Linked DNA regions of Homo sapiens: all the other regions are linked to region 4. Evidence: fine-mapped expression QTL. A gene starts in region 4. Each other region holds a variant in brackets. All regions are shown on one strand. Distances are from middle to middle. Region 1 overlaps SMOC2 (SPARC related modular calcium binding 2). Region 2 overlaps SMOC2 (SPARC related modular calcium binding 2). Region 3 overlaps SMOC2 (SPARC related modular calcium binding 2). Region 4 holds the start of SMOC2 (SPARC related modular calcium binding 2).

What was found. PIP is the estimated chance that this variant, and not a neighbour inherited with it, causes the effect. A credible set is the group of variants that fine-mapping cannot tell apart.
Region 1: its variant is the best candidate, but not a certain one, in a credible set for the expression of SMOC2 in aorta (GTEx, PIP 0.82).
Region 2: its variant is the best candidate, but not a certain one, in a credible set for the expression of SMOC2 in substantia nigra (GTEx, PIP 0.67).
Region 3: its variant is the best candidate, but not a certain one, in a credible set for the expression of SMOC2 in putamen (GTEx, PIP 0.82).

The regions. Positions count from the first base shown.
Region 1 is chr6:168,648,531-168,656,147 of GRCh38, reverse strand. It overlaps SMOC2 (SPARC related modular calcium binding 2), which reads right to left. Exons shown (of 13, transcript NM_001166412.2): 10 at 5,365-5,467; 11 at 2,920-3,194. Among named protein-coding and RNA genes, the nearest start is that of SMOC2, 210 kb to the right of the region's middle. The variant A/G (reference allele first, on the strand shown) is at 3,779.
Region 2 is chr6:168,604,457-168,612,073 of GRCh38, reverse strand. SMOC2 (SPARC related modular calcium binding 2) reads right to left here. Exons shown (of 13, transcript NM_001166412.2): 9 at 3,835-3,917. Among named protein-coding and RNA genes, the nearest start is that of SMOC2, 170 kb to the right of the region's middle. RefSeq lists an enhancer at 4,950-5,486. The variant A/G (reference allele first, on the strand shown) is at 3,119.
Region 3 is chr6:168,613,172-168,620,788 of GRCh38, reverse strand. All of the region lies in intron 9 of SMOC2 (SPARC related modular calcium binding 2), which reads right to left. Among named protein-coding and RNA genes, the nearest start is that of SMOC2, 180 kb to the right of the region's middle. The variant T/A (reference allele first, on the strand shown) is at 4,854.
Region 4 is chr6:168,436,942-168,444,558 of GRCh38, reverse strand. SMOC2 (SPARC related modular calcium binding 2) reads right to left here and starts at 3,375. Exons shown (of 13, transcript NM_001166412.2): 1 at 3,105-3,375. The coding sequence starts at 3,188.

The DNA of each region.
Region 1 (7,617 bases), 210 kb before region 4:
GTTGACAACAAATAAAAGAGTCATAAACGACAGAGATTTGAGCGGTGTCTACTAGCCCTACCCAGCAAGTATTACACAAATCAGGAAACAGATCCCCAAGGACAGTGAGAGCTAATGCACATGTGGAATGAGATCCAGCACACATGTGCAGTGGGATCCAGTACACGTGTACAGTGGGATCTAGCACACACATACGGGGGATCCAGCACACACGCGCAGTGGGATCCAGTACATGTGTACAGTGGGATCTAGCACACACATATGGGGGATCTAGCTCACACATGCAAGGGATCGAGCACATACGTGCAGTGAGATCTAGCACAAGTGGGCAGGGAGATCCAGCACATACATGAAGGGGAATCTGGCACACATGTGCAGTGGGATTTAGCACACACATGCAGGGGAATCTAGCACACATGTGTGAGGGGATCCAGGATACATGTGCAAGGGATCTAGCACACATGTGTGAGGGAAATCTAGTACACACGTGCAGGGGGATCTAGCACACACGTGTGAGGGGATCCAGCACACATGTGCAGGGGGATCTGGCACACATGTGCCGGGTATCTAGTACACACATGCAGTAGGATCCAGCACACACATGCAGGAGTATCTAGCACGCATGTGCAGTGGGATCAGGGCATGCACGCATCTCACAGTGCTGTCTCTGAGCTGAAAAGTCAGACCCGGCTTCTCCTGGCTTGCCTCCTAAGAACATCTGGGCTCTGGCCATCACAGGTTTCTCTTACTTCCTGTCACGGTTGGGTAGGCCAGGCCCACAAAAAAAAGTATTTTCAATTGTTAAAACTGCTATAACCATTGGAATAACTGGTCTGGGCCACAGCAATGATTTTACGGCTTGTGAACTGGCCTAACGTTTAGTTGGAGCTCAGGTGCAGGGTTGGTGAGTTCCTAACATCTGGTTGGAGCTCAGGTGCAGGGTTGGTGAGTTCCTAACATCTGGTTGGAGCTCAGGTGCAGGGTTGGTGAGTTCCTAACATCTGGTTGGAGCTCAGGTGCAGGGTTGGTGAGTTCCTAACATCTGGTTGGAGCTCAGGTGCAGGGTTGGTGAGTTCCTAACATCTGGTTGGAGCTCAGGTGCAGGGTTGGTGAGTTCCTAACATCTGGTTGGAGCTCAGGTGCAGGGTTGGTGAGTTCCTAACATCTGGTTGGAGCTCAGGTGCAGGGTTGGTGAGTTCCTAACATCTGGTTGGAGCTCAGGTGCAGGGTTGGTGAGTTCCTAACATCTGGTTGGAGCTCAGGTGCAGGGTTGGTGAGTTCCTAACATCTGGTTGGAGCTCAGGTGCAGGGTTGGTGAGTTCCTAACATCTGGTTGGAGCTCAGGTGCAGGGTTGGTGAGTTCCTAACATCTGGTTGGAGCTCAGGTGCAGGGTTGGTGAGTTCCTAACATCTGGTTGGAGCTCAGGTGCAGGGTTGGTGAGTTCCTAACATCTGGTTGGAGCTCAGGTGCAGGGTTGGTGAGTTCCTAACATCTGGTTGGAGCTCAGGTGCAGGGTTGGTGAGTTCCTAACATCTGGTTGGAGCTCAGGTGCAGGGTTGGTGAGTTCCTAACATCTGGTTGGAGCTCAGGTGCAGGGTTGGTGAGTTCCTAACATCTGGTTGGAGCTCAGGTACAGGGGTGGTGAGTTCCTAACATTTGGTTGGAGCTCAGGTACAGGGGTGGTGAGTTCCTAACATTTGGTTGGAGCTCAGGTACAGGGGTGGTGAGTTCCTAACATTTGGTTGGAGCTCAGGTAGAGGGTTGGTGAGTTCCTAACATTTGGTTGGAGCTCAGGTAGAGGGTTGGTGAGTTCCTAACATTTGGTTGGAGCTCAGGTAGAGGGTTGGTGAGTTCCTAACATTTGGTTGGAGCTCAGGAGCAGGGTTGGTGAGTTCCTAACATCTGGTTGGAGCTCAGGTGCAGGGTTGGTGAGTTCCTAACATCTGGTTGGAGCTCAGGTGCAGGGTTGGTGAGTTCCTAACATCTGGTTGGAGCTCAGGTACAGGGTTGGTGAGTTCCTAACATTTGGTTGGAGCTCAGGTACAGGGTTGGTGAGTTCCTAACATTTGGTTGGAGCTCAGGAGCAGGGTTGGTGAGTTCCTAACATCTGGTTGGAGCTCAGGTGCAGGGTTGGTGAGTTCCTAACATCTGGTTGGAGCTCAGGTGCAGGGTTGGTGAGTTCCTAACATCTGGTTGGAGCTCAGGTGCAGGGTTGGTGAGTTCCTAACATCTGGTTGGAGCTCAGGTGCAGGGTTGGTGAGTTCCTAACATCTGGTTGGAGCTCAGGTGCAGGGTTGGTGAGTTCCTAACATCTGGTTGGAGCTCAGGTACAGGGGTGGTGAGTTCCTAACATCTGGTTGGAGCTCAGGTACAGGGTTGGTGAGTTCCTAACATTTGGTTGGAGCTCAGGTACAGGGGTGGTGAGTTCCTAACATTTGGTTGGAGCTCAGGTAGAGGGTTGGTGAGTTCCTAACATTTGGTTGGAGCTCAGGTAGAGGGTTGGTGAGTTCCTAACATTTGGTTGGAGCTCAGGAGCAGGGTTGGTGAGTTCCTAACATTTGGTTGGAGCTCAGGTGCAGGGTTGGTTATTCCAGTGGTTCCCAGGTTTGCACCTCAAATACCAGAAGACAATCCATTCTGGGGGAAGCCAACCGTGGTCTGAACAGTAAAAAGGCTCATTGCAAACCAACACGCAGTTCATGCCCTTTGAGCCTGGGCTCTCCTGGGCAAGTGGCATGTGATGAGTCGCCAATTATCATTATTATTTCTGCAAACAGACGCCCAACAATTAAACAGCATATTTGATTTTTTGCACTCCCAGGCCATAAACACAATCTGTAATTGTGTTTGTGAGAAGCAGACCTCCCAGGCCTCAGGGCCTGACCACTGCCCAGGGTCGGGGGTGGGAAAGCTCTTACTGTGGCGTTTCTTGGTGTCCGCTTTGCCGTCCTCTTTCGCCACGCCCAGGCAGCCCATCAGTTCTTGTACGGAGATGGATTTGTCATTATTCACGTCACAGTATTCAACAAACTTCTTCACACATTTTTTGGGCTTTGATTTTTTGCGAAGGAACCTCTTGAAGGGTTTGATTTCCTTTTTGCCGATGTCTCCACTGGAGTTTTTATCCAGTAGTTTGAAGTACCAGTGCACCACCCGCTCCTCTAGGGTATGGCTGGGGTCGGGTTCTGAGAGCCTGGAAGGAACACAGATGCCGTCAGGATGCTTAAACCCCTGGGCTGCTCCTTCCTGGCCACTGTCCTTCCCTCAAACCCATAACCCCTGCTTGTAGTTCTCATGGTCCTGGTGTCTCAGCCTGCAGCACTGGTCATCAGATATAACAATTTAAAGAAATAATTTAGAAGAACATTTTTAGCAAAGATTTTTCAGGTTGGATTCAAAATTGTAAATGATGCAGTGAATTTGTGCCCAGCAAAGATGCACTTGAAGGACAAAAGCCCCCTTATCCTGGCTTCTGTGTGCACAGGACTGGCAGGTCAGCACATGCAGCTATACCCGCCCGACACACCAGAACCCTGAGCTTTTCTAGCCCTGTAAATGTGATTCTTTTACACATCCTTCATGTCATAGGAATATCAGATGATGCAAATCAAAAACATTTTAAGTTGGGACTAGATATTTTTCCTTGGATTATGTTAGGTTCAATATTTTAGGGCATACATAAATAAACTCTTCTAGAAGGTGCGGATCTTTAAAAGTGCACCAAATGGCAGACACGCACCTTCTCCGTGAGATGGAGGGTGTGTGTGTGCGCATGGG[A/G]TGGCCCTCCTGGAGGTGCTGGCCCCTGGATTCTGCCTGTTGGGATGAGCTGTACATTCCCAGGTATGAGAACACCGTGAACTCCGACACCATTGCCAATTTCTCAACCTTTCGGAGGATTTTCAGATAACAATCCATTTACTGCCATCAATTTTAGTTTGCATTTAGTTTAGTTTGCAATTTAGTTTAGTTAGCAATTCATTTACTGCCTTCATTTTTAGTTTGCAGTTTAGCTTAGTTTGCGAAAACAATCTTTCCAAGAATAGAAGATGTAAAGTTGAAATTTACATACAGTTTGACTCTATTAAAATTTTTTTTTTTTTTTTTTGAGACAGAGTTTTGCTCTTGTTGTCCTGGCTGAAGTGCAATGGTGTGGTCTTGGCTCACTGCAATCTCCGCCTCCCAGGTTCAAGTGATTCTCCTGCCTTAGCCTCCCGAGTAGCTGGGATTACAGGTGCCTGCCACCATGCTGGATTAAGTTTTGTATTTTTAGTAGGGATGGGTTTTCACCACGTTGGCCAGGCTGGTCTCGAACTCCTGACCTCAGGTGATCCACCTGCCTTGGCCTGCCAAAGTGTTGGGATTACAGGCGTGAGCCCCTGCGCCCGGCCTGCTCTATTAAATTTAATTTCCTACACATTCATGACATTTTCTGTTAGTATTGCCTTTTTATTTCCTTAAGTCTTCTTTAGCAGACAGACAGTGAGAGGAGAGGCTTTTAGTTCAGGAGACCAAAAAAATCACCTAAAGTGGCTGAGATAATCAAGGGTTTGGGTGTCAGGGGCTATGGGGAGAAAGGCCAACATTCTAAAGAAAGAAAAAAGATGAAATCTCCATCAAAACTTTATTTGAAAGAAACAGATAAACTATGGCTAGATCAGGGGGAATATCTGATGCTTGAGATGCCATCGCAGTAAAACCCTGGGGTTCTTCTGCTCTCCTGAGGCTGATCTACAGAGGGTGGAAAAGAGGAGTGTTGGAGAATTCACCGAAAGCCACTCCACCGAGCTCCAGGCCCCAGGTCCAGGAGTGCGGGAATGCCTACCAGGTACTCAAGGAACATCTCCAGGGTTCCAAAAATCCTATTTTGAACAGTGTGAATGTCTTTGATGTAACTGAATCACATGCCTGAAAGTGGTTAGGACAGCAAATGTATGTGCTGTACATTTTACTGCAGTAAACCTAATCACGTTTTGAGAACTTCAGATTAAACGTTGTCATTCAAAGTATTTACAATCCAATCGATGACTCTAAAGTGCAATTTCAAAGCACAAAGCCCTCTGCAGGAAGTGCTCCCCCTGCCCTGCTCCGCACCAAAAGGGCCAGGGTCAGAGCCCACTACCCCGCAGAGGCCCAGGAGTCACGGCTCAGGGCCATGTACCCCTATGGGAGTGTTTTCAGTGATTTAGTCTTGCTACAAGAAAACCTGCTAAGCAACTTCCTGTGTTTGCAGAAGGCTCCTTTTTAAGGCCCTACTGTGTCCAAATAAGCTGAGAAGGTTGCCAATATGTAATGTTCAGACTTTCCAGATTCCCCAGAATTCTGGGACCCTGCCAACTTGTTGTCCCACGGCGAACACAGCGTACCTGCCTGACGAGGAGGAGGGGTCGGAGGCGGCGTGGACCATGTCCGTGGACAGCGCGTCCAGAACGCTGGTCAGAAACTCATGCTTTTTGGCACCCGGACAACCTGAAAAACACGTGTATGTTTTCATAATTAACTCATAAAGCCTAACAGATTTTCCTCTAAAATACAGGGAAATGTTGTTTTACTGTTTGGAAATGAGTATTTTGGCCTACCTTAATCTTAATGAGCTAGTTTAAACACAAACACATTGCATTATATATATTGATTTTGAGCCATAGCTATTATTAATTCCTCTATTGTTTGAATTATTACGTGAGACTAAAATTCACAGGCATTAGTATCTCACTGATCTTCAGAACTGCAATCGGAGGTGGGCAGTGTCACTCATCCAGCGAGTGTGGCAGCAGAGGCACCGGGTGCTTAGGGACACGGGACATACGGAGTGCACGCTGAGAGCACATGAGGCTGGCCATCCCAGCAATCGAGGCCAGGGCCTGTGATTCACCGCCACCCCCACCCTGTCCAGAGCCACCTCGCTTCTCAGAGCAAAAGGAGGCAGTAGGGCAAACAGCAGGAGCTCCCCAACGCCCGTCTCCTGGGGACTTGTCCACACCACGGCATTGGCACGAACAGTCCACAGCAGGGTTTAGTGCTCATAGCTTTGGAGCCCAGCGCGGACTGTGTATGGATTCTGGGGTCAGGGAATAATTCAGGCACCCAACATTCTGCAGCGTGACTTTCCCCTCCATCCTTCCCTCAACACCACTCTCCTCTCCCACCGGTTAGGAATTCCCTGACACCATGCCTGAGACACTCGTCCCACCCCAAATTCAAGATAACATTTGAAAGAAGCCATCCACTTTCTCTGGGGTCTTTTCTCCTGAGACCGTTCCCGGTGCTACTGCCCCAGTAGCTGGACACAGGCAGCATCCCGTGTCCTTATGCCCAGGGTGGCATGGACAATGGACAACATAGGTCTCCTCTCTCTGGATGCCCTTTTGGCATAGAGAAGCAGCTCAGCTGCCCAATACATGCTTGCTGGATCAATAAGCAAATGCAAGAGGTAGGAGCCCCACCCTCGTTTCCCCGATGAGATCGGCGGGTTTAAGAGCTTCACAAGCAGGGAGCAAAATTTGCCGATTCCAACTGGGTCTATTTGTGTGTAAATATCCAGGGGAGAGGTGACAAACGGAGCTTGTTACCATTTACATTTTGTTAAATTTTTATAAAGAAAGCCCTTCCAGAGTTCAGTAGAAAGAGAAAGATACCGAGGGGAAAATAGAAGACAGAAGCCAGGCACCAGCCCTGGAGGGACAGCGTCCCCACTGAGCCACGCTGCACTCTCAGACTCCCTGCTGGGGAGGCTGCCTCTCCCTGGGGCTCTGCTGGGGCTAGGGACACCCACGGAGACTTCTGAGCCTGGAGAGCACCTCGGGCATTAGAACATCTGCTCGGACCGTCCTCACCACAGCAGGAAGGGAGTTTACACCACACACCTTCTGCCCAATTTAGATTCCATTTTTTACTAAGAAAAGTTTTAGACGGCCCCGCCAAAGGGAATCTCAGGAGCCCACTCAGTAAGTGGAGGACGCGGAGAGCTGCAGAGCCCAGGCAGAAAGCCGAGTGGGACTGAGGACGGCCCCTTCCCCGCCTTCCCCGTGGCCCTCAGAGGAAGGATTGTCTGAGATGAGGAGGGCTCTCTCTGGACTCCTCAGGCAACAGGACAGGCTGAGGGTGCCGTGGGGAAAGGCAGTGCCACACGTGATTCTCAGACCCCTGGGTCGAGGGCACGTTGGCGTGGACCACCCCTGGGTCAAGGGCACGTTGGCGTGGACCATGTGGCCGTGGTGTGGACAGCAGCCAAGTCGTTCGGAGACCAGCCTGTTTATGCAGTTAGGGACGCCCTGGTTTTCCTAGGTTTCTTTTTGACACTGGAGTTTTGTGTGATTGCTCTTGAAGCACACGTGAGCTGCCGATAGCAAGACTCCACAGTCATGCTGGCTTCCACTTCATTAAACACACATGTCAGAAAACAGATGTGCAGCCTTCACCAGGGGGGTTCTGAGAGTGCAAAAAGGTCTGTGTTAGTCTCTTTGCACACAACTGAAAAAGGAGATCAAAATCTATAGCAAAAAGCATCACGGCCACGGGGCAAATGCTACTTTCCAAGAAAGAAGTAACAGTCTCATCGAACATCCCCTCAGAAAGGCAGAGGACCTGAGGCTGCAGAGGCTGCTGGCCGCGGTGCTTCC
Region 2 (7,617 bases), 170 kb before region 4:
TCACTTAGCCAAAAAGTCTTCTAGTAGGAAAAGAAAACTGCCTACATCCTTCGTTCCACCTCGCGGATGCCGGGAACATGGAGGTGCAGTCTCCACCTCCCCAGGGACCCTGTGAGGCACGGGGCAGAGTCCACACCCACACCACACGCTGTGCCCCACCAGGTGGGAACAAGCTGGACAGGTGCATGTGAGTGGCCGGCCGCCTGGGCATCCTGAGGAAGCCGTCCTGAAGGATGTGTGGGAGGCACAGGAGCTAAGAGAGATGCAGCTCAAGCAGAGGGAAGAATTCCAGCAAGGCTCAGACACGGGAGCCACATCAGGGCCTGACATGGGAGCCACAGCCAGGCCCGACACGGGAGCCACGGTGGGTCCCGGACATGGGAACCAGAGCAGGGCCAGACATGGGAGCCACAGCCAGGCCCGACACGGGAGCCACGGTGGGTCCCGGACATGGGAACCAGAGCAGGGCCAGACATGGGAGCCACGGCCAGGCCCGACACGGGAGCCACAGTGGGTCCCGGACATGGGAACCAGAGCAGGGCCAGACATGGGAGCCACGGCCAGGCCCGACACGGGAGCCACGGTGGGTCCCGGACATGAGAACCAGTGCAGGGCCAGACATGGGAGCCACGGCCAGGCCCGACACGGGAGCCACGGTGGGTCCCGGACATGAGAACCAGAGCAGGGCCAGACATGGGAGCCACGGCCAGGCCCGACACGGGAGCCACGGTGGGTCCCGGACATGGGAACCAGAGCAGGGCCAGACATGGGAGCCACAGCCAGGCCCGACACGGGAGCCACGGTGGGTCCCGGACATGGGAACCAGAGCAGGGCCAGACATGGGAGCCACAGCCAGGCCCGACACGGGAGCCACATAGGGCCCAACAGACACACCACGGCCCCGACACAGGAGCCACAGCTCAATGCAAGTGCCTGGTTCTCCAGCCTCACATGAGGACCTGGGAGGATGTCAGGGGGCTGGGGAGGCTGGAGAGACAGAGTAACCCTGTTATTTAAAACACCAACCAGAGTGTGATCAGAGATGCCAGGGCAAAATAAAGTGAGGTGAACCTGTCCAAGAAGAAGGTGTGGTTTAGGAAGGGCTGGTTTAAGAAGATCTGGTTTAGGAAGGTGTGGTTTAAGAAGGTGTGGTTTTGTGCCTCTTTTTAGAATTTCTGCTACACAGGATGTGATAGTCCCAGGAGGAAACCTACACAATGAAAGAAGAACCTTCAAAAGCCAAAACGGTGACCCAGTCGTCACTATGTAGCCCCTTAAGCCAGACCTAGATCTCTTGTGCCATATAATAAAATGATGGCCTCCAAAGACTCAATGATCGTTTGCTGCCAAACACCTGCTAACTGTCCTACATAAGATGTGAATAAGTATTTGGTGACAAATCAACTGCTCACCCCAAACAAGTGAATTTTGTGTGAAAATATTATCAGCTTTACATGGAAAATAGAGGACCTACATTGGCAAAACCTTAGAAAAGCAACTTCAAAAGGAAACGGTACCTTTTAAGAATAAAATACATCAGCCTGCATGGGACCTGAAGGATCTTCCTACTCAAAGGCTGCTGTGTTATTTTGGAAATAGGTTTCTCCTCTCTACCAGGAACAGCCTCTATCCTGCAGCTATTTTAAGACCTACTTGTTTTTTCCTAATAAGGATAATTATCTCCAAATAATCAAAATAATTAAGTGGTCATGAACAGTGCACTCCCAAACATCTATGGCAACAGCACAAGCTGACCTTTGCACAGTTTGCGTCACGTGGCTTTGATGCCTCAGCAATCTGGTTTTCGTCTGAGGTGTGGGCAAGGAAACGCCGTCTTCATTGTGAGCATCTAACCATCCTTCTCCTCCTGTTTTAGCAGAGAGGAGCATGGTTTCTGACGTGCCCATCCTCACAGTGTGGGATGCTGTATCTCCAAATGGCACCTCTGACACTCAGAGAAGACAATGACATCATGTTTCTCAATATCAAGGACCAGTTGTTCTCACTGGACAAATGACTGTGTCATCTTTAAATCAATAGTCTGGGTCTAGAGTGTAACAGATTAGATTCCACCAGGAAAAGGTCTTCCTGCCACGTGCACTCCTGAGAGGCAGCAGAAGCCAGCCTCTGTCACGGTCCCTTTTACCAATGAGAAGCGAAACTGACTTCCATAAATTGCACTCGTATCACCTGTGTGAAGACCACAGTGCAGCTTGGCTTAGAAGTGATGCAACTTTGTGCTATCGAAAAAAAAAATAAGTTAAGAATCTTGGACTCTTCAAGAAGTACACTAGGGGCAAAAGACAGATTGAAGTGCACGTGACAAGGTCAAGACCAACCAAAACCAGGAAACATTTATTGAGGGCTTTCCATGCAGCAAGCATGTGAGAAGCTCATTATGTCTTTTAAGGAAACATCTTGCCCACCAATATTAAAATCGGACTTCAGAGACAAGAGATGACACCAGATAATGGAGGAGGAGAACTCCCTCCTGACAGGGCCATCAGGGGGATGGAATTCAGCCAGCAGCTGAGCACAGCCTGCAGACACGGGGTCAAAGGCAAAACACCCTTCACTAGGCATGCACAGGGACGGGTGTGTTTGCACCATCGTGATCTCTTCCCCCACCCTCACCTGCGAGATCCAGAAAGAAGCTGATTCATTCAACAGAAAGCAAGTTGATTGCTCACACAAGGACCATACTCTCATTAAAAAAAAATTACTAGAACCAACAGATTCCTCAAACCTGCCTCACAAGGAAGACACTGAGGAGGTACACGGCTGGGAAACCATGAAGAACTAAGACAAAGACAGTTCCTAACAAGCCAGCCCAGTGAGCTGCACGGTGTTTACCAAGAGCTGGCAGAATAACTGTGCTGTGTGTCCCCGGAACCACATTCCGCCCTCTGCTTCCCTGTGTCAACCATTCTCGTTACTCATGTTGTGGAATCGCTATGAACACGTAGCAATGAAACATGTATAGACTGTGGACATTCTGCTCTACCCTGTCCTCATTTATAAGCCGAACATCTTTACTTTTTACAATTTAAAACCTTTCTACCAATGACAGTACAAATAGTACAGGAAGCACAAAAGTTTACTCATCCGGAATTCATCC[A/G]GTTTCTGTATGAGACAAGATCAAGCACGTACTCTAAACAAAGTACGCTGTAGTGTGATTTTCATGTCTCTGAGATGTTGGTTAAACATACACAATCTGGAGATATTTAGAGAAAAAAAGATCAAAATGAAACAAATGGCAAGTAGCTTTGAAGCTTCTTAATGATATATCAAATTCACCCCATGACGTCTTTTTGTGACTGCATTTTTCAATTATTATAAATTTTAATTCACCTCTGTTTAATTACAATATTTCTTTGTAATTAAACTCAATACATACATTCAACTCATGTTTTCTTAAAACCTAAACTTTAGCTTCATGAACTGTTGATTCAGTGAAAAAGGAATGTCAGAAAGTGACAGTGAAATGTAGGTAGAATGAATAAAGGGTTCTTTGGGCTGTGGGGTTCAGGAGCATCTAGAGAGGTTAGGGTGCTGTGTGCTGATCTGATTTGTGAGGGGCCCTTTCTTTCTCTTCCATGTCTGACCTTCCATACACAGCAGCAGGGAGGAAGCCCCCCAGGTGCTCCCCGTGTGGGCTCCTGGCCCCCTGTCTCCCTGCCTGGACTCAGGGCCCTCTGCAAGGAGGTAGGAGGCCTCAGAGTCAGACAGGCCCCCTGGGAAACAGAGTCAGATAAAGTCTTTTTCATTCCAAATTTGCAAGAAACTGCATGGTGGGGCCTGTGGATTCGGGCCACACTCGCGGGTGCTGCTCACCTTGTAGCTGGCGGCCCTTGTACAGGTCCCGGGCTTTGGCTGGGTGGGCCCTGGCCGTGTTGTCACATTTCGGCTGCTCGTACCTATGGGCGGGGGGAAGGCGGGGGAAGGAGAGAGAAAACAACGGGCTTGAGACCAGCTGTGGTTTGTCTTCCATTTCTGGAGTGTCCTACCCTAGCATACACCGTGACCTGTGGCTCTGATGCTATGACACCCATGACCTCCTCACTCCTTTCTGTCACCTTTGTGGATATTTGGCATAGAAAGCTATTGCTTGCAGTCAGTAGGAAGAAGCACACTGTGACTTCAATCACACAGCAGGGCCGTCTCTCCATCCCGTCTCTGAAATGAATCTCATCTAGCAGCTGCCAAGCACCCACACCTCCCCCTCCTCCCGTTGCAGGGTTGGATGGAGCAGCGCCCACACCTCCCCCTCCTCCCGTTGCAGGGTTGGATGGAGGAAGCACTTGGGTTGTTTCGTCAGAGCAGGAGTGTGTGCACGAGGACAGAGGGTGTGACCACTACCCCCACCCCGCCCAAGGAAAGGATGCAAAGGACTTCAGGATTTAGATTCCTGTAGCACCAAAGGCCAACTCATTTCCAATCCACCTCGTGAAGCTACGAAAGTCTGCCTCAGTGTTAAAAAAAAAAAAACGACTCTCTGGTCCCACTTAGCATCAATGACAAACTGCAGGTTAAGTCCTGAACAGACAGGGCTGACATCCAAGAGGGCAGGTGCCCTGGCTGCTGCGGTTGCAGAGCTCATGGGAGCAAGTGGCTCTGTGGTACTACTGAATTGGCAGTGGGAACCAGGGTGCCTGTCCCTAAGGGTGTCAGATTCAAATCCGGTAAACAGCTCATAAACACTGCCATATGCATGCCATTCAGCAGCCCTTGACCAAGGCCTGCTTTGCCTGGGTTTTATCCTTGTCCTGGGTGTAGGGCAAGGAGGAGACCCCTGCCACGCAGACCACCAGCCTCATCCAGTAGAGGAGGTGGACATTTAAACAGAGTGCGGGCCACCATGAGAACCTGCCTCCCGGAGCCCCCACCCCCAAGGAGGACAATCTTCCGCACACAGAAATCCTTCACTGTGGCTTTCACCAAGAAGTGGGGCTTCTCACCAGCATGAAGGAGACGCCGGGGAGGTGCGTTCCCGGGAGATGGGAGATTCCTGGGTCAGCACACCCACCGCCCCTTTCTGTGGACTCGCAGGACCCCAGACAGCCCACACCAACTTTCCTCGCTTCCCCTCCACTCAGCTGACCTCATGCTGCATGGCGGCTCCCCAGCCCCCTGCCCCTCCCATCCATGAGTGTCAGGCACGTGGAATCCTTCGTGGCGGCCTCCTCAGGCCCTGGCAAGTGACACACTGGGAGACGCAGTGCCCGCCAACACCATCATGGGGCACAGGTGCAGTCTTGGGGCTCCAGAAAGACTCCTTGGAAAATGAAGAAGACAAGCAGGAGGCCAGCGGGAGGGGGTCCGGCCCGGAGCCCTGAGGTTGTCAGGAGGCCAGCGTTCCGCCAGTTCTCATCCTCTCCCTCTGCCCTATTTTCTTTTTTCATTCTTAAAGAAAGGGCTACAAGATCCTATTTACTTCACAGAGATCACTTTAGGTTCTATTTTTTTCATTGCTTACATGCTTTTCAGCCATAGAAAATAAAATGAAATTTCTCTCTAAAGGGACATATTTAAAGTGTTCTAACAGAGGCCCCAGAGAGTCCAGCAGTCCCAGTGAGAGGACCCCATCCAGCTGTCATAAGAGTCAGGAACCACACATTCCTGCCACCCTTGGCCCTCAATAGCCTCTTTGATACCAGAAAACCTGCCACCCCAGTCAGACAAACTTAATATATCTTTTTGAAATATTGTTTTTGAAATTAAAGTCTCTGACACACTCTGGCAAACAGTTAAGCTATCACATTCTAACTGAAAGCCATTAACTCATATTCTTTGAAAATGTGGGGGTGGGGGTCAGCTCCAAGAGGTCACAAGAAAGGCGAACTCAGTAAAGGACCTGTTACCCAGCCAGGTGTCTCCTAATGCAGCTGCTGCTGCGGCCAGCAGGTGAGAAGTAAAACATTCACCCAGAGATGATGTGTACAGGAAGCTGGCTTCCTGAGGGATTAGGAAGCTCTTATTTTTACTTATGCGTGTTAAATTTGTAGAACTAGGGCACTCTGAGGGCTGAACGATCTTCACTTCAAGCTCCGGGTCAGTGTCTCAGGGGCCGAATTGAGACCTACATTAGAATGGACCCTTCCTGCCCGAGGGCTTATGAAGGGGGAGCTGCCAAAAGCCAGGCGAATGTCCCAGCTCAGAATGGATGACGTAGACTCTGAGGATAGAGTTCCAGCCCTTAGGGGCCATCTTGCTTCTCCGAGTATCAGAGGGCACACCTCCTTAGAGCCCTGGACTGCTCTGTAGTGTTAGAAAAAGGAAGTGTTAACATGAACTCTGTTGTGCCCCTGAAGCCCTTCAGGATCAGTACCTGTATCCTTCACATGGGTGGCACGAGACTAGATCATTTCTTACCCTCATTCCAAATCTCCTAGCTTCGAAGCAATCAGGAAGCCAGCCACCTGGACGGGCATTTCGGTTTTGTTCCACATTTGGGATAGAGGTATGTTGCAAATCCTATCACTGATGCTAATATAAAAATATATATTTACATGACAGTATTCTGCTTGTTTTAATGAGTAGTGTGAAATGCCCATGACTTGCAGAATTGACAATCTCAAGAGAGGAGAAAGAGGAGAAATAAGTCCGTTAATTTCAGCTTTGTCATCCATCACCATTCTTTTCAATAGGTTTATTTTAACTTATTTGTATAAGGAAAAACACAAACGTCTCTTCTCTCATTGCCCATCAGATACCAGGTTCTCTGCCAGGGAGAAATGCAGTCCTATGCCCACATGATCCCCTGCACACCCCACTGAAAGACACGCTCTGGGGTTGGGGAACAGAGGCTACACACCTCATTGAGAGACATGCTCTGGGGTCCAGGAACAGAGGCTGCCCAGATGTGAGGTAGGAACAGCCAGCAGTTGGATGGCAGACAGACAAAGGCTTCATCAGCCTCTCTGTTCTGGGCATGAATGCAGAATCTGGCCATCAGCCTGACTCAGCTCAGTCTGATGGCCCCTTCCCATTCTCTCCTCACTACTGTTAGTGGCTGAGGGGAAACTTGCCCCTCGGCTCCCACCTGGACTCTACCATTCATGGGGGCCTGCACTCATGACAGGTGCCTGGACCCCTCCTTCCGGGATCTGCAAACAATGACGAAGATGCCAATTTTGACACAAAAGTCAGGGGCACTAGGAAGGGCTGAAGCCTCTGCCCCTCCTCATATCTCCTTCTAAGTGATGGGTCCAACTAGAAACTGCACCAGAGCAAGCTGCTCCTGCCTCATCTGGGCAGAGTGGCATGTACTTGTGGTCCTTGGGATGAGTCTGCCACAAAACTAACGCCTTTTAATTCTCATGCATGGTGACATGAGGATAAGAGAGGTCACATATCAAAGACGATGCAATTTATGTTTATAGCTTCTTACTGTTACTGGATTATTAAATGTTTCTTCCCCATCAGGAAATTTAGAGGATGATTAAAGAAAACAAACATCTTAATTGCCAACCCAGGTATAAATCAAAACTATGAAGTATCTCCCTGGGGCTGCTTATTTCAGAAAATTAATAAGAAAATTGCGCTGAGGGAACAGAGGGCATTTAAATAGAAATGCGACCTGGTTACTCAATAATGGCAGAATCACTGGGAGATGAG
Region 3 (7,617 bases), 180 kb before region 4:
GCCAATATCCAACCTGGATAATTGGATTTTCCCTGTCTTGATCCCCCTTGGAATTAATTTCTCCTGCAGAAGTGATTTCTCACGTTCACTCCTCTCTCCGCACAGTGTCAGTGCTGCCCATGCTGTCTGCGGTTCCCTGACTCAAAGGGTGCTATCTAGGGTGAGGGTGAAATGTTCTTGACATTGGTACAAGTCTGGAAAAGAGTTTACAAGAATTCTACCATAATATTTTTAGACATAGGGAAAATTTTCCTATATATCAGTCTCCATTTTCCCAATATTTCAAACTGAAATAAGGTGGCTTTCTTGTTCAAGAGCATTCATCCCAGGGTCATAAACCTGCAATCCTCACAGCCAGGTCTCAGCTCCAGAGTACGGGAGCTGGATCTCTATTGACTTGCATCTCCCAGAACATTGGCAAGCACCACCTATGCAACAGGCATGTAATAAATACTTGCTTGCAAAATTAGAAAACAAAGGGATTTGTAATTCTCATGAGAAGGTAAAGCAGAGAAGGCACCATGCAGTCTTAGTATTCTGCCAGCGTTGGGTTTAAAGACATAGGGGAATCAGGAAGATAAGCGCTTCCAAGTGAAAACAATAAACATGATTCAGTGAAGAGATGAAATACCGATAGCTAAAGAACGCTCAAGGCATCTGAATTGCTTGGTTTGGTGGAGGGGAGAGACCACAGGCAAATATTACACGCAGGTAGGGCTGTGTGTTTCATGCCTGAGCAACCTGGTGCAGGGGATCTGAAGACCTGAAGGCAGTGACTGCCAACCTCAGGGAGCACAGAGCCCGTGTGTCCGGAACCTTGAGAGCGAGCTGGACAACGGCCTGCCGGAGCACAGTGACCATGACTGGTACGTAGAGTAAAAGGGCCACAAGACACAGAGCGTGTAAACTGAAGCTGTGGGCTTTCTAACCATGGCAGGCACTGGCTACACAAGGGACAGCTGGCTGTGGAGACCTTCCGACTCCAGGCAGAGTCCCCTCTGTCCGGACTGGCCTCACTGTGGTCTCACCTGAAGTGCACAGCCTCTGAGAAAGAAGGGCGCTTTCAGGAGTACCACGGTGGTTTCCTGCCTGAGTCAGCGGCAAACGGGAAGTAAGTGAGACTTGCGTTATAGGAGGTTTTAATTTGATTATGGTAGAGCCTCAATCAATTCAGAAAAGATAGGAGGGAAGTCTAAACTAACCACTGTAGGCCAGTTAAAAGCATACTTGTTATTTTTAAGTGTATACCGTACTTGGAAGGCTTTTAAAGTAGTTAATCATTTAGGATAAACTGCTTTAATAGAGTTAGGAATTATTTGCAATAGAATAACAATTGTTTAGAAATTAATTTAATATATTTGATAGTGTTGGAGACCAGTTTGTTCTCAAGTTATTTAAATTGTCTCTGAAATATTGCTTACACTATTAATTTGTCTGGCAGATGCCTTTTTCATGATGAACGTAAATCTAAACTTTATTCCATCTCTCTTCTGCATAATCATAACTTTCAAAGTAACGCAGGCTAAACTGGCCAGAGCTGACTGTCCTGTTGTCGTTCAGAATGCTCCCTGCTGTCTTTGGGAATTTTTTAAATGGCACTTTATCTTTAAAAATCTGGCTCTAAAGGAAACCATAAACAAAAACAAGCCACATTGCTTCTAAAATAACTCAACAATGTGCTGTTGCGGTCACCGGCGCTGCTCAGAACTCAAGTTCTCCGATCCGTGCTGAGGGTCATTTTGTGTCAGGTCATAGGTCATCTAACACTTGGTTCTCTGATATTCTAGCAAATTCCTGGGTATTTTAAGATTAAGATATTTATTGTCTTATTATATTGAATAAACAAATAAAATGCAGCCCATAATTTCAGAAATTGGTTCCCAGTTTAGTGGAGTCTGTGGAGTAGTGACTGAAGGGCACTCCAGCTTTCCTGCCATCGCTGTCTCTCCCAGACCGGATGCCCGTGTGCCTGCTGCGTCGAGAGCCCATAGTCCCTGCAGGAGACGATGTCACCTTCCCCATCGCCTAAGCTGGGCTACTGATGTCCTGAGCGCACCGTCTTCCTGTCTGCATCTGTGCTCACCCCATGCGGGACATTCCTAGCCCTTCCATCGTCATTCCCTGGCCTTGTCTTAACTCTTTTACCACCTCTCCTTGACTCGCCTCTTAATGCCACTACCTGCCTCTCCTCAACTCTCCTCTTAATGCCACTACCCACCTCTCGACCCTCGTTTTAATGCCACTACCCACCTCTCCTCGACTCTCCTTTTAATGCCACTACCCGCCTCTCCTCCACTCTCCTAATGCCACTACCCGCCTCTCCTCCACTCTCCTAATGCCACTACCCGCCTCTCCTCCACTCTCCTAATGCCACTACCCGCCTTTCCTCCACTCTCCTCTTAATGCCACTACCTGCCTCTCCTCCACTCTCCTCTTAATGCCACTACCTGCCTCTCCTTGACTCGCCTCTTAATGCCACTACGCTGGCTCTTTGCCATTGGATGCCCAGTGAATTGCAAGCTGTGTGTTGTTACTAATCATGATCGGCTTGTTTGTAGGGCTCAGTGCAAAATGGAGCACGGAGGCCTCGCGTTTAAAAATTAATTATTTCATCGTGGTGATAGCACAGCAATAAACCGAGGGTCCTGTTGGAGCACTGGGCCCTGGGGCGATGGTCCAGGCCACTCCCATGCAGGCAGCCTTGCGGCTAATAACACGCCATAGGACAGATCCGTTTTCTTGGATGGGAAATAAATGGGTGGGTTAAAAATCTCAGATTATTTTATCCCTGGCAGACCCCATAAACCTGGCAATCCATGTCAGCATGCCTCTCAGGGAAATGACCTGTGTCCTGTGTGCTGGAGGCATGGCCCCTCAGCGAGGCGCTGGACGCGACCCCCGCCTCTCCAAGTAGGCCATGCAATCAGGCGAGATACAGTCCCATGCATGGCGGAGAGAAGAAAACAGAAAATGCACTGGGGTAAGGCCAGGAGGGGCCCCATCGGTCACAACAAGCAGTTCACATTTAATCTGGAGCCAGGAGACCCTGATGATGGGAAGCAATACAGGCCAGATCTGGGGTTTCCAGACACCTCTTCTTGCTGCATGGATGGGGATCAGAATCTACTTACAGTCTATTTGGAAACTCGCCTGGAGGAAGCAGTGGGGCAGCCAGCGAGATGCAAGAGAGCTTGGAGCAGAGACAGGACTTGTCCAAGCGGATGTGAGTGCGGGACAAGAGTGGAGTGCCCCTGGCCCATCAGAGTCCTAAACTTTTGCTTGAAAGGTCATGGGAGAAACTATAGCTCCAGCTTCCTGCCCCGTCTTCAGAGTCCACGAATGCAGTGCCCTGGGCCCCTGGGAGACCCGTCCTTGGGTGTGAGAAAAGCTCCTGCTCAGCCACGTCGGTGAGAAACAGCCACCCTGCTCAGTTATTCACACTCAGCTGTTGAAGTATCAATTAATAAACAGAAAAAGCGCCCAGCACCCTCCTGTACATAATTAGACATTTGTTAGTCTTTCCTCTACATGTTGAGGAAAATAAAACGCCTTTGTTTATTTAATTTCTCTATTCCTGTTCTTGTTTTTTTGAGAATGATGAATTCCCACATTCCCCCAAACCTCCAATGTCTCCTTACTCTCAAACATGAAGACAAAATATCAGCCAAAAGAAATATTGTAATAAAATCCCACTGAGAATTCTGCTGGCCTTGCTGCAAGAGTAGCCATATCGCTCCTTCTTAGTTCTCATCTCTCCGGTGCCCTCTGCAGGGTGCATCCTGTCCACTTTCTTTCCCAGGAGAAAAGGCAAGCGCTGAGTGAAACGCTCACTTCACCTGTGTCCCTGCACCTGCGTGGGCTCCCTCAGCTGCTGGAGGAGCTCCCTGCAACCCCCCCGCAGTGCAGCGGCATCTCGGGATGCTCCACAGACACCGGTTCTTGAAAACCACCTTTTCCCAACCGCTTGACTCCTCGGCACCCCTTGTCCCTGCTCTTCCTGTCTTATGATGCCTCTGGGATGGCAATTATATGTGTGGTTTTTCTGAGTTTTTATTTGCAGCAGTCTTTTCTCAATAAAACTGATTTAATGGTCCATTTCACTGTTACGCTTCCTAAAAACTGCAATTTCCTTCAAAAGTGTTACTAATCTTATTCATGGGCAAATTTCATATTTAGACATCCAACTTAGTGGTCAAAAAATAAAATAATGTAGATTCAGCTCTCTCTTCCAAGTGGTGCCATGTGGAACGGTCTCTTGCCATATCTGGGACTCCCCAGCCCTACCCATGAGGCTGAGTTGATGTTCTTTAGGTATCATGCCACCAGACAGCTCTCAAAAGCAGAATGCCAGGTTAAAAATCCTCTCTCACAGACAGCCTCGCATCCCAGCCTCCTCAACACCCAGTCCTTGTCCCAGCCTCATGGGTCATGGAGAGTCTGAGCCTGTGCCCTGAGCAGCTGGTTCTGGCGTGAGCCTGTATGGACACAGAGTGCAGATAGCTCACCTAACTACTCACATCCCCAGAATTACAGTAGTATGTTTCTAAAGCCTGAAGCTTTGTTCCCAGCTCAGCTAAAATTTAGAAGACTCGTGTCTGTAAATTCAGTCTTTGATATGACAGCAGGGATCACAGAAGTAGACATTTTTAGTGGGCAGAATATTGACACCTCGTGTCACCTTTGTGAGGCTCTCAAAGGCCACCAAGCGAGGTCCTGGCCGGCTCCTGTCTGCTTTGTAGAAAAGGTAAACACCGAGGTCCTTACATGTCACATGATACCTGGCAGGAATGTGTTGCTCCTGATCTAACTACCTTTTGGAAAATGTCCTAAGCTCCACTTAGGGCAAGGTAAGG[T/A]TCATTTTATGCTCTCTCAGAAAACCATAACTAATCTTCAAAAAATTAGAATAGTGCTAAAATCGTGTCTGAAAAATCCAGGTGTTGCCTCTAAGGTTTCTACATGAGTCAAAGACGATAATTATGCCAGCAATTGCTTGGGGCCCCAAGAAAAAAGATGCTCCTGGCTGTAGATGTGAAGAGACCCTGTGCTGGCTGTAGGTATGAAGAGGCCCCCTGTGCTGGCTGTAGGTGTGAAGAGGCCCTGTGCTGGCTGTAGGTGTGAAGAGGCCCCCTGTGCTGGCTGTAGGTATGAAGAGGCCCTGTGCTGGCTGTAGGTGTGAAGAGGCCCCCTGTGCTGGCTGTAGGTATGAAGAGGCCCTGTGCTGGCTGTAGATGTAAAGAGGCCCTGTGCCGGCTGTAAGTATGAAGATGAAGAGACCCTGTGCTGGCTGTAGGTGTGAAGAGGCCGTGTGCTGGCTGTAGGTGTGAAGAGGCCCTGTGCTGGCTGTAGGTGTGAAGAGGCCCCCTGTGCTGGCTGTAGGTGTGAAGAGGCCCTGTGCTGGCTGTAGGTGTGAAGAGGCCCCCTGTGCTGGCTGTAGGTGTGAAGAGGCCCTGTGCTGGCTGTAGGTGTGAAGAGGCCCCGTGCTGGCTGTAGGTGTGAAGAGGCCCCATGCTGGCTGTAGGTGTGAAAAGGCCCCGTGCTGGCTGTAGGTGTGAAGAGGCCCCGTGCTGGCTGTAGGTATAAAGAGGCCCTGTGCTGGCTGTAGGTGTGAAGAGGCCCTGTGCTGGCTGTAGGTGTGAAGAGGCCCCCTGTGCTGGCTGTAGATGTAAAGAGGCCCCCTGTGCTGGCTGTAGGTGTGAAGAGGCCCTGTGCCGGCTGTAAGTATGAAGAGGCCCTGTGCTGGCTGTAGATGTGAAGAGGCCCTGTGCTGGCTGTAGGTATGAAGAGGCCCTGTGCTGGCTGTAGGTGTGAAGAGGCCCTGTGCTGGCTGTAGGTGTGAAGAGGTACTGTGCTGGCTGTAGGTGTGAAGAGGCCCCCTGTGCTGGCTGTAGGTGTGAAGAGGTCCCCTGTGCTGGCTGTAGGTGTGAAGAGGCCCTGTGCTGGCTGTAGGTGTGAAGAGGCCCTGTGCTGGCTGTAGGTATGAAGAGGCCCTGTGCTGGCTGTAGGTGTGAAGAGGCCCTGTGCTGGCTGTAGGTGTGAAGAGGCCCTGTGCTGGCTGTAGGTGTGAAGAGGCTCCATGTGCTGGCTGTAGGTGTGAAGAGGCCCTGTGCTGGCTGTAGGTGTGAAGAGGCCCTGTGCTGGCTGTAGGTGTGAAGAGGCCCTGTGCTGGCTGTAGGTGTGAAGAGGCCCCCTGTGCTGGCTGTAGGTGTGAAGAGGCCCCCTGTGCTGGCTGTAGGTATGAAGAGGCCCTGTGCTGGCTGTAGGTGTGAAGAGGCCCTGTGCTGGCTGTAGGTGTGAAGAGGCCCTGTGCTGGCTGTAGGTGTGAAGAGGCTCCATGTGCTGGCTGTAGGTGTGAAGAGGCCCTGTGCTGGCTGTAGGTATAAAGAGGCCCTGTGCTGGCTGTAGGTATGAAGAGGCCCTGTGCTGGCTGTAGGTATGAAGAGGTCCTGTGCTGGCTGTAGGTATGAAGAGGCCCTGTGCTGGCTGTAGGTGTGAAGAGGCCCTGTGCTGGCTGTAGGTATAAAGAGGCCCTGTGCTGGCTGTAGGTGTGAAGAGGCTCCATGTGCTGGCTGTAGGTGTGAAGAGGCTCTGTGCTGGCTGTAGGTGTGAAGAGGCCCCCTGTGCTGGCTGTAGGTGTGAAGAGGCCCCCTGTGCTGGCTGTAGGTGTGAAGAGGCTCCATGTGCTGGCTGTAGGTATGAAGAGGCCCTGTGCTGGCTGTAGGTGTGAAGAGGCCCCCTGCTGGCTGTAGGTGTGAAGAGGCCCCCTGTGCTGGCTGTAGGTGTGAAGAGGCCCTGTGCTGGCTGTAGGTGTGAAGAGGCCCCCTGTGCTGGCTGTAGGTGTGAAGAGGCCCTGTGCTGGCTGTAGGTGTGAAGAGGCCCCCTGTGCTGGCTGTAGGTGTGAAGAGGTCCTGTGCTGGCTGTAGGTGTGAAGAGGCCCCCTGTGCTGGCTGTAGGTGTGAAGAGGTCCTGTGCTGGCTCTAGGAGAAGAGGCCCTGTGCTGGCTGTAGGTGTGAAGAGGCCCTGTGCTGGCTGTAGGTGTGAAGAGGCCCCCTGTGCTGGCTGTAGGTGTGAAGAGGCCCTGTGCTGGCTGTAGGTGTGAAGAGGCCCTGTGCTGGCTGTAGGTGTGAAGAGGCTCCATGTGCTGGCTGTAGGTGTGAAGAGGCCCCCTGTGCTGGCTGTAGATGTGAAGAGGCACTGTGCCATGCCCTTTAGGGAGAGGCCTTGACCATTCATGAAGTCTGCTGGGTCCATAGAGCTTCCAGAAACACTTGGGTGAGAGGCTGTTTGACCAAAATAAAGACCATTTCTTAGACTGTGTGCCAGGCGGAAGAGCTCTGGGGATCCAGGAGAGGACCCTGGCTTGGGGTACAGGGCAGTAACAGAGGGGCCATGCCCAGGCTCCCCAAGGGGCTCCTCATGCCGCCCCCTCTGTCCTCACACTGGTGCCACTGCTGAACCACCAACATCAGGACACCCACAGAAAGACAGTGCTGTTTTCACCTGAGCTGGTGGAGGAAGGAATGGCTCACAGGATACGTCAGACTTCCCCTGCACCTTCCTGACCCCCAGGGCCCAGCTCCTGTGCTGCCTTTGGGGTGGCCTGGACCACAGTGCCTGAGA
Region 4 (7,617 bases):
TCTGAGCAATAACCAGGAAGTTGTGCAAAGCCATCAGAAAGTCACAATGAGAGACACAGAGGGCCTCATGGTGCCATTTCTAAAGAATGACTTTGGTGGAAAGAAGAGAGATCATTACCAGACAAAGTGGATTCTCTGAATCTTAAACATAAAGTAGCAGAGGTGAGCACACCAGCAATGCTGGACCCACCAAGAAAGCACACTCACCATAGGTGAGTAAGACAAATGCGTGGTCCTGAGAAGCCAGGTATGGCAAACTGAAAGCCCCAGAGAGGCTGACATATTTCCCTGCTTCTAGATGAGAAGAAATGAATGGAGTAGAAGGAGGCAGAGAGGCAAGCTTTCCTCCTTGGTCTATAGAGTCCCACATGGCTACTCCCACAAAGTCCACAGATACACCCAGAGCCAAGTGGTGTGCTCTGAGAATCTGCGGCAGGTGAAAATACTGCAAAGTTGAATCCACACACACCTTAATGCCACAACGCTATATGCATTGATAATTACGGTATCAATTGATAGCACTCTCTTATACGGACCCACGGCATGGGCACCATCAAAACAATGTTAGCTGGAGAACTCACATATAGTAGGCGCATTAAAAGCCCTACCTTTAATCCTCACCACATGCTTGAAAGAGATTATGTATTCTCATTTTACAGATAAGGGGACTGAAGATTATGAAATTAAGTAACTTGCCTGAAGTCACACATCCAGCAAGACCCTAAGCTGTGGGTCCCACCCACTGCATGGACTGATACTGCCTCTTGATTTATTAAAGTAGGTAGGATGCAAATCGTAGGGAGAGAAGGCCCTTCTTTGAATGAGGGCCTCCGGAGACAAAAGAGATTTCCAAAAACCAGAAGGCAATTTGAAAAGAGATGAGCACACTGAAAAATCCTGCACATCTCACATCTCCCAGCGACCAGTCAGATTTCAGGCCTGCCTCAGTTACTTTGTAACTCAACTACTTCTTGATTTTCTAGACTGGGGGTGGGGTGAGAAGAAGTGTGCCAAAATGTGTTATGGCTTTAATCTTTTCTTCGGGATACTGATTTTATTTGCAAATGTAAATTTCAGGCAAACTGTTCTTGGGGAATGCAGCCAACAGGGCAAAGCCCACGTGGGGTATCAGCTCCTGCACAGAGACCCCACATGCAGCGGGTCTCACCGCAACCCAAGACATCCTTGGGGCAACCTCAAGGGGGCAAAAGGTGAGAGGGTTCAAGTAAATAGTTAGATGAGACAGGGGAGAGAAGACAAGAAAACCTGCCGAGTCTTAAACTGTTCTAATTACTAACTACCTTGATTCTGCTCTTCCAGGGGGGACCAACAGGCCCAACCCCACCCCCCACACACACAGGGCAGCAGGCAGATGGCAGTCTCTACTTTTTGCGCTTTCAGAAAATCTGAAAATCCGTGGCAACTGTAGGTACCTGCTGCTACAGTCCTGGAAGAAAATGCTATGATCTCCTTTGGAGAATTGGCCTTAGTTTCTCTGTCTCCTCTAGTGTGCTTTAAGAGTATGTGGGGGGTCTTTTTGTGAGTGTATACGTGAGTATATTTATGTCTAGATGCATGTACAGATGTGCATATACATGAATGCCTCCAGTGAGTATCCTCTGAGGGCCCCCTCTGGGGAGATAAAGGATCTTCAGGGAAAGCCTGAGTGTGTGAAAACCTCCTTGGAGCCCCAGTTAGCAGTTTCTAATCTACAAGTCATTTGTGAGACACAAGGCAGGGACCCCGGGCTGCTGCAGAAGAATTTGAGGTATGAGCAATGAACTCACAAACCATCCTTCACACTGCTAAAACGCAAAAGAAAGAAGACGAAGAAAAAGAAAAAGAAAAAGAAAAGATGCCCACATGACTGTTTTAAATTTGCTGAAAGGCAGAACCGACCACAGCTTATTTCAACCATCTTTATTTTCAATACAATAAACACCTTTAGGACAAGTCCCCGGCCACTTAAAAAAGACGGCTGTCCACCAGAGGCGTTCTCACTACCTTCGTGTTTTCTCAAACACTTGTTCAAAAACACATTTAAGTGGAATGTTTTCGTTTCTGGCGATTGCATTAATGATGGGTTTGCAAACCCTGCAAGCCCAGGAGGACGGCTGGAGCTGGGGGCTGCAGACACCCGGCCTTGGCCCAGCGGCCGCCGCGGGTTGGCTTGGCCGGCGGGGGCTTGGCTCAGCCCCCTCTACATAGCTCCTCGTTTGACACCGCGTGCGTTGGCCGGGCCAAGGCTGTCGCATAGAAGTTACAGCTCAGAAAGAAAAACACACAGCGGTCAACCGCGGTGACCCTCGCGCTCAGGAGCGCAGCATCCCTGCCACGAGGAAGAACCCAGAGGCCCCGCAGAGCGGGGAGCCGCCGCCTGCCTCCAGTTCTGTCCTGAGAAGGGAAGAAAGCGCTTCTCTAATAACACTCAGGCCCGTGAAGAATCATCTGTAACCTCATCTGCTTCTTCCTCGGCTCACTTACGAGGGTCTCTGGGAGAGTCAGACCCACGAGTGGGGCCCACGACTGGCAGCCCCTTCAGCCGGCGAGAGGCCCGGGATCCGCGCGGCGCACGAGCCCAAAGCGGTCGGGAGAACACGCTCCAGGCCGGGTCCCCGTGGGCGAGGTGGGCGCCCAGTCCCGGCGGGTCTGTCTTGGCCTTGGGACAGTCCGCGGGGCGGCGCCGGCGCTCCCAGACCTGGTTCCCCACAGGCTCAGGCCCAGCAGTGAGTGCGGGACACCCGAGCGCACCCGCAGCTCCCACTTGTCCGGGGTCTGCAGGACCCCAGGATCCTCTCACAGCCGGGTCAGAGCCCCCGAGGCAGGTGGGGTCCCAGCCGGGTGGAACCCGAGGAGCCCGTCGCAGCCGCAGCAGGACCCCGGCGGGCAGGGTCCCCAGAAGCCCATCCCAGCCGGGTCCCAGGCGCGCACGCTGCGTCCTACCTGCTCCAGCCTCGCCGGCAGGCGAAGGCTCCACGGCCCCCGGGGCCACCTGCTCCCCGTGCCCAGGCGCCTGGGCCTGGAGCGGGGCGCGGGGACCCGAACCCGGCCGGCTGCAAGAGGCGGCACCACTTGAGCTCCAGGTCCCGCGGGCCCGGGCTTACCGTGAGCGCCGAGAACTTCTGAGCGGGCACCGGCGGGAGCAGCCCAGCGAGCAGCGGCAGCCAGCAGAGCTGGGGGAGCAGCATGGTGGCGGAGGTGGCGGGAGCGGGAGATCGGCCGCGTCCTGCGCCCTGGCACTGCAGCCGGGAGAGCCCAGTGGGCGAGCGCGGCTGGGCGGGCGCGTGGAGGGGCGGCTCCGCGATGCTCTCCCCACCGCTCCCGGCGGCCCGGCTGGAGCAGCTCCCCTGCAGGCACCCAGAGGTCCTCCGCGTTCTTTGCGTCCGCCCTCGCTCCTGTCAAATACCCCGGAGCTTCCCGGATCCTCCCCTCCCGCCCGCCTCTCTCCCTCCCCCTCTCCTCCCCCAGCCCCACCTCCCAGCGCCCGCTGCCGCGCCCGCTCCGCTCCGGTGCCCGCTGCGGCCCAGAGGCCTCCCTGGCGCGGGTCTGCGGAGCGAGAGGTGGAGCGGGGGCCACCAGGGCTGCGCAGTGGCCTGTCCGGGCTGTCTCTGTGCCTCCTTCCCCGCGCGCACTCTCACACACACACGTGCACACTTACACACACGCACACCCAGGCACACGCACGCACTCATACCCACGCGCGCGCACCCTCGGGGGGCTTCCAAGCACAACCACGGGACGCACCGCGCCCTCCTCACGCCCCAGGGTCCAGGCCCGGTCCGCGCAGGATCAGCCCAGCGGGACTTTTCATCCACAAAGGTTAACGCCAAGCCTTGGCCGGTCCCCAGACTCCGGGGTTCTCCTTGACCTCTGCCCTCTAAGGCCCCCTGGTCCAGCCCAGAACATTGCCTCTCAGAGGTGCTGAAGGATCAGCGGCGCTCCAGCAAAGGCAGCTGGGAACACATGTCCAGGAAAGGCTGCGCCGGGGGCAGCCCGCCTTTGGCATCTTTACACGGGGTTATCCACTGCAGGGATGGGGGAATTTAGGTCCTAAAGATCCGGGGTCTGACCTGGGCTGTAGCCTTGATCCTCTCAAGTCGGGGGAGCATGTGGTTGGGCATCATTCACAGACACATGTGGCTGTTTTTAAACAGCTCTGTCAAAGCATTTCAGGTGTTTGTGCGGGGAGCACAGGGCTTGTGGAGGTTGTAAACTCACCCACGAAGACTACGTTGGAAACCAGGAAATTTTTGCACACCCAGACTCTGGATAATATCCACTGCAGACAACATTGCTGACATAGTTTAGCCTTGGCTTATAACTTTACAGGAAAAAGCCCTAATTCTGTCTCACACAGAAAGCCAGAAGAGTGAAGATTTGTTCAAGAACAATGAATCAATTGACTTGTCAGGGGCATTGGGAAAAGCACAAAACACAGAAAATCCAAATCTGAGGTTTCATCCGATGTCTAGCCCACTGCTTTGGCTATGAACTTTGGGGGAGGGGGCTGTATCAGCAAGTTCTGGGACTGGCTGCTGAGGCAAAGGCAATGCTATTGCAACCTTTCCCACACAATTTTATCAGGAAAGTGATGTCCGTCGGGCCACGGAAAGACGGGAAAGAAATGCACCTTTTCCTGAAGGAGGGCTACTCTCAGAATTCTCCTTAAAATTCCAAAGCCCAGGGAATCTATTAAGCACTTAAACACATTCCTCCTGGTTTAAGGACTTAGAAGGAAATTATAATAAAACTCTTGAGGGACTGCTCCTGGGTCCAGAAAAACAGGTGAGCAGAGCAGCTGCAAATGATTAAGTAAATAGGAATCACTGTTAGGGAACTGCAGTGAAAATTAAAGTAAAAAGAAAATAAACACTACATACCACTAATTCTAAGATTATCCAAAGAATAAAATTTACACTCGAAGCTGACATACTTCCTTTAAGAAGTATTTGCTACTAAAGAACCTGTTTTTCACTTTCCACTTTGTTGAGAGTACTGCTCGTCAGAACTCAAAAGTTTGAAAGCATGTTCATTTATCCACCATCGTCCGCTGCAAGAATGGCAGACAAGAAGCAGACTTAATTATTCCCATTCTACAGATGAGGAACAAAAGTCAAAGGGGCCAAATGTCTTAGCCAGATCTCCTAAGCAACAAAATCATAAACAGAATGCAGATGTTAAAACCTGCAATACTGGCAAATCCATGTCACTTCCTCTGGCAATATGGAGAACAGAAGAAAATCCTTGGCCCTCCGTGCCTTGTATTCAAGAATCCCAACACGTCTTTCATGTAGCAACTCCAGAATCCTCTGGGAACTCTAGGAAGATAAATGAAATGCATTTGTCCAAAACTCTGACAGATGAGGCAGGTTTGGAGCCTTTGAAACCCCTTTCAAATCTGGAGGAGCTCATGTGTCCTGAATGCCAAATTTTAGTTTCTCAAAATTCTAGAAATGGAGTTTGGAGAGATAATCAGGTTCCATTTTTATGGAGAAAAACAATACATTTATTTAAAACACTGGGAAAGAGTTATGTCTGTCTTTTATTTGTAAGTCTCCAAGAAAGTTATTACTGGCAGGAATGCCAGAGAGCTGTCATGTTAGAAAGGATAGAAAAGTAATTCACTCAGTTCAAAGTTAAGACAGGAAGTGATCAGCTCTATACTTTCCAGAGAGTTCCTCTAGGATGCAGGAAGAAGTTCCCCTCTCTTGGAAATGTAGGTTTTTTTGTTTTTTTTTTTAATTAAAAAGTGATGCAGGGCCCATTCTAAAATGTGGCTTATGCATTCAGAATTTAAATGCCTGTCACTGATGAAAGTTACAATAAAGAACAGCAAGAGAAACTAATTACCAAAGACTCCAGCTGTTTTCACATTTCTAAACTAACTTTCCCTCTTAGGCCATTAGCAAAATGCTTTATCATGAGTATTGGCTTCCTTTTTATTTATTTTACTATGCTAAAACTGCAAAAGGATTTTATTTTCATTATAGAAATGATATAATTTAGTTATTATTTCTGGCTAATTCATGTTTAGCCAGAAAACTTTTTGTCAGCTATTTTCCCATCTCAATATGCCAAGCATAAGTTTAGTCAAATATCTCTTTGTTGATGCAGTGACTTCCAGAAATCCCCTCTGCCATCACTCTGAGTATCATCTGGGACTGAACTCAGGTCACTGTTCATACTCTGAGAATCACCCCACATCATCAGTCACCTGCCAGTCACTTATTAATGTTTTCTCCTAGTTTCTACTTAATCATGGGAGCAGGAGTTTTCACCGTTCACCTGGACTTTCTTAGGTAAGTTCTGTGTGATTTTCCTTTTAGACTACCCCCAGGCTGGACCCGAGAATCTGTAGTTCCCCAGGTTTCTGGAGTCTCTGTCCTCTTGTTGGCTTGTTCATTCTGATGACTTGCATCTTCCTTTTAACTTGTTCCCTTCAACCTACGGAAAAATGATGCAGGATCCCCACATCAATCCCAGGTTTTTAGCCCAAGTTCTGCAGCTTCACAAACCTGTGAGCCATATAGAAAGGAAACCACATCGGCAGAGTTGACAAAATCAGAACAGAGCACCGCCGAGGCTCACCGTCACCGCGGCTGCAGGATGAGGCCAGCGTTGACACACCACGTTGAAAAGTGGACAGTGGAGTTGTGTGTTTGATCCTTGGGCCTGACTCAATGGCTTTCTTCCTATTTTGATATATTTAAGTAACAGAGAATTTGGACTTTGTGCTCAACAAAATAATTAAACAAGTTTCTTCTTTTTTTTTTTTTTTTTTGAGATGGAGTCTTGCTCTGTTGCCCAGGCTGGAGTGCAGTGGTGCAATCTCGGCTCACTGCAAGCTCTCCCTCCCGGGTTCACACCATTCTCCTGCCTCAGCCTCCCGAGTAGCTGGGACTACAGGCGCCCACCACCACGCCCAGCTAATTTTTTGTATTTTTAGTAGAGACGGGGTTTCACTGTGTTAGCCAGGATGGTCTCCATCTCCTGACCTCGTGATCCGCCCACCTCGGCCTCCCAAAGTGCTGAGATTACAGGCGTGAGCCACCGCGCCCGGCCTCTTCTTCCTTCTTAAGATGCCTGAGGACAATTTTTATGATAATACTTTTCAGGCACTTTGTGGCAAATTTTTAAAAAATAATTTCAGCTTTTATTTTAGACTCGGGGGCACACGTGCAGGTTTGTGACATGGACATATTGTGTGACTCTGAGGTTTGGGGTATGAAAGACGCAGAGAGTGAGCATAGCACCCAATAAGCAGTTTTATCAGCCCTTGTTCCCTGCCCCACCTTTCTAGCAGGCCCTGGTGTCTACTGTTCCTTCTTTATCTCTGTGTGTACCCAGTGTCTCATTTCTTCTTTATCTCAATGTGTACCCAGTGTCTAGCTCCCGCTTATGAGTGAGAACATCCAGTATTTGCATGTCTGTTCCTGCATTAATTCACTTAGGATCATGGCCTCCAGTTGCATCTATGTTGCTGCAAAGGACATGCTTCCGTTCTTTTGTGGCTACATAGTATTCCGTGGTGTCTATGTACTACATTTTCCTTGTCCAGTCCACTACTGATGGGCACCTAGGTTAATTCCATGTCTTTGCAATTGTGACCGGTGATGC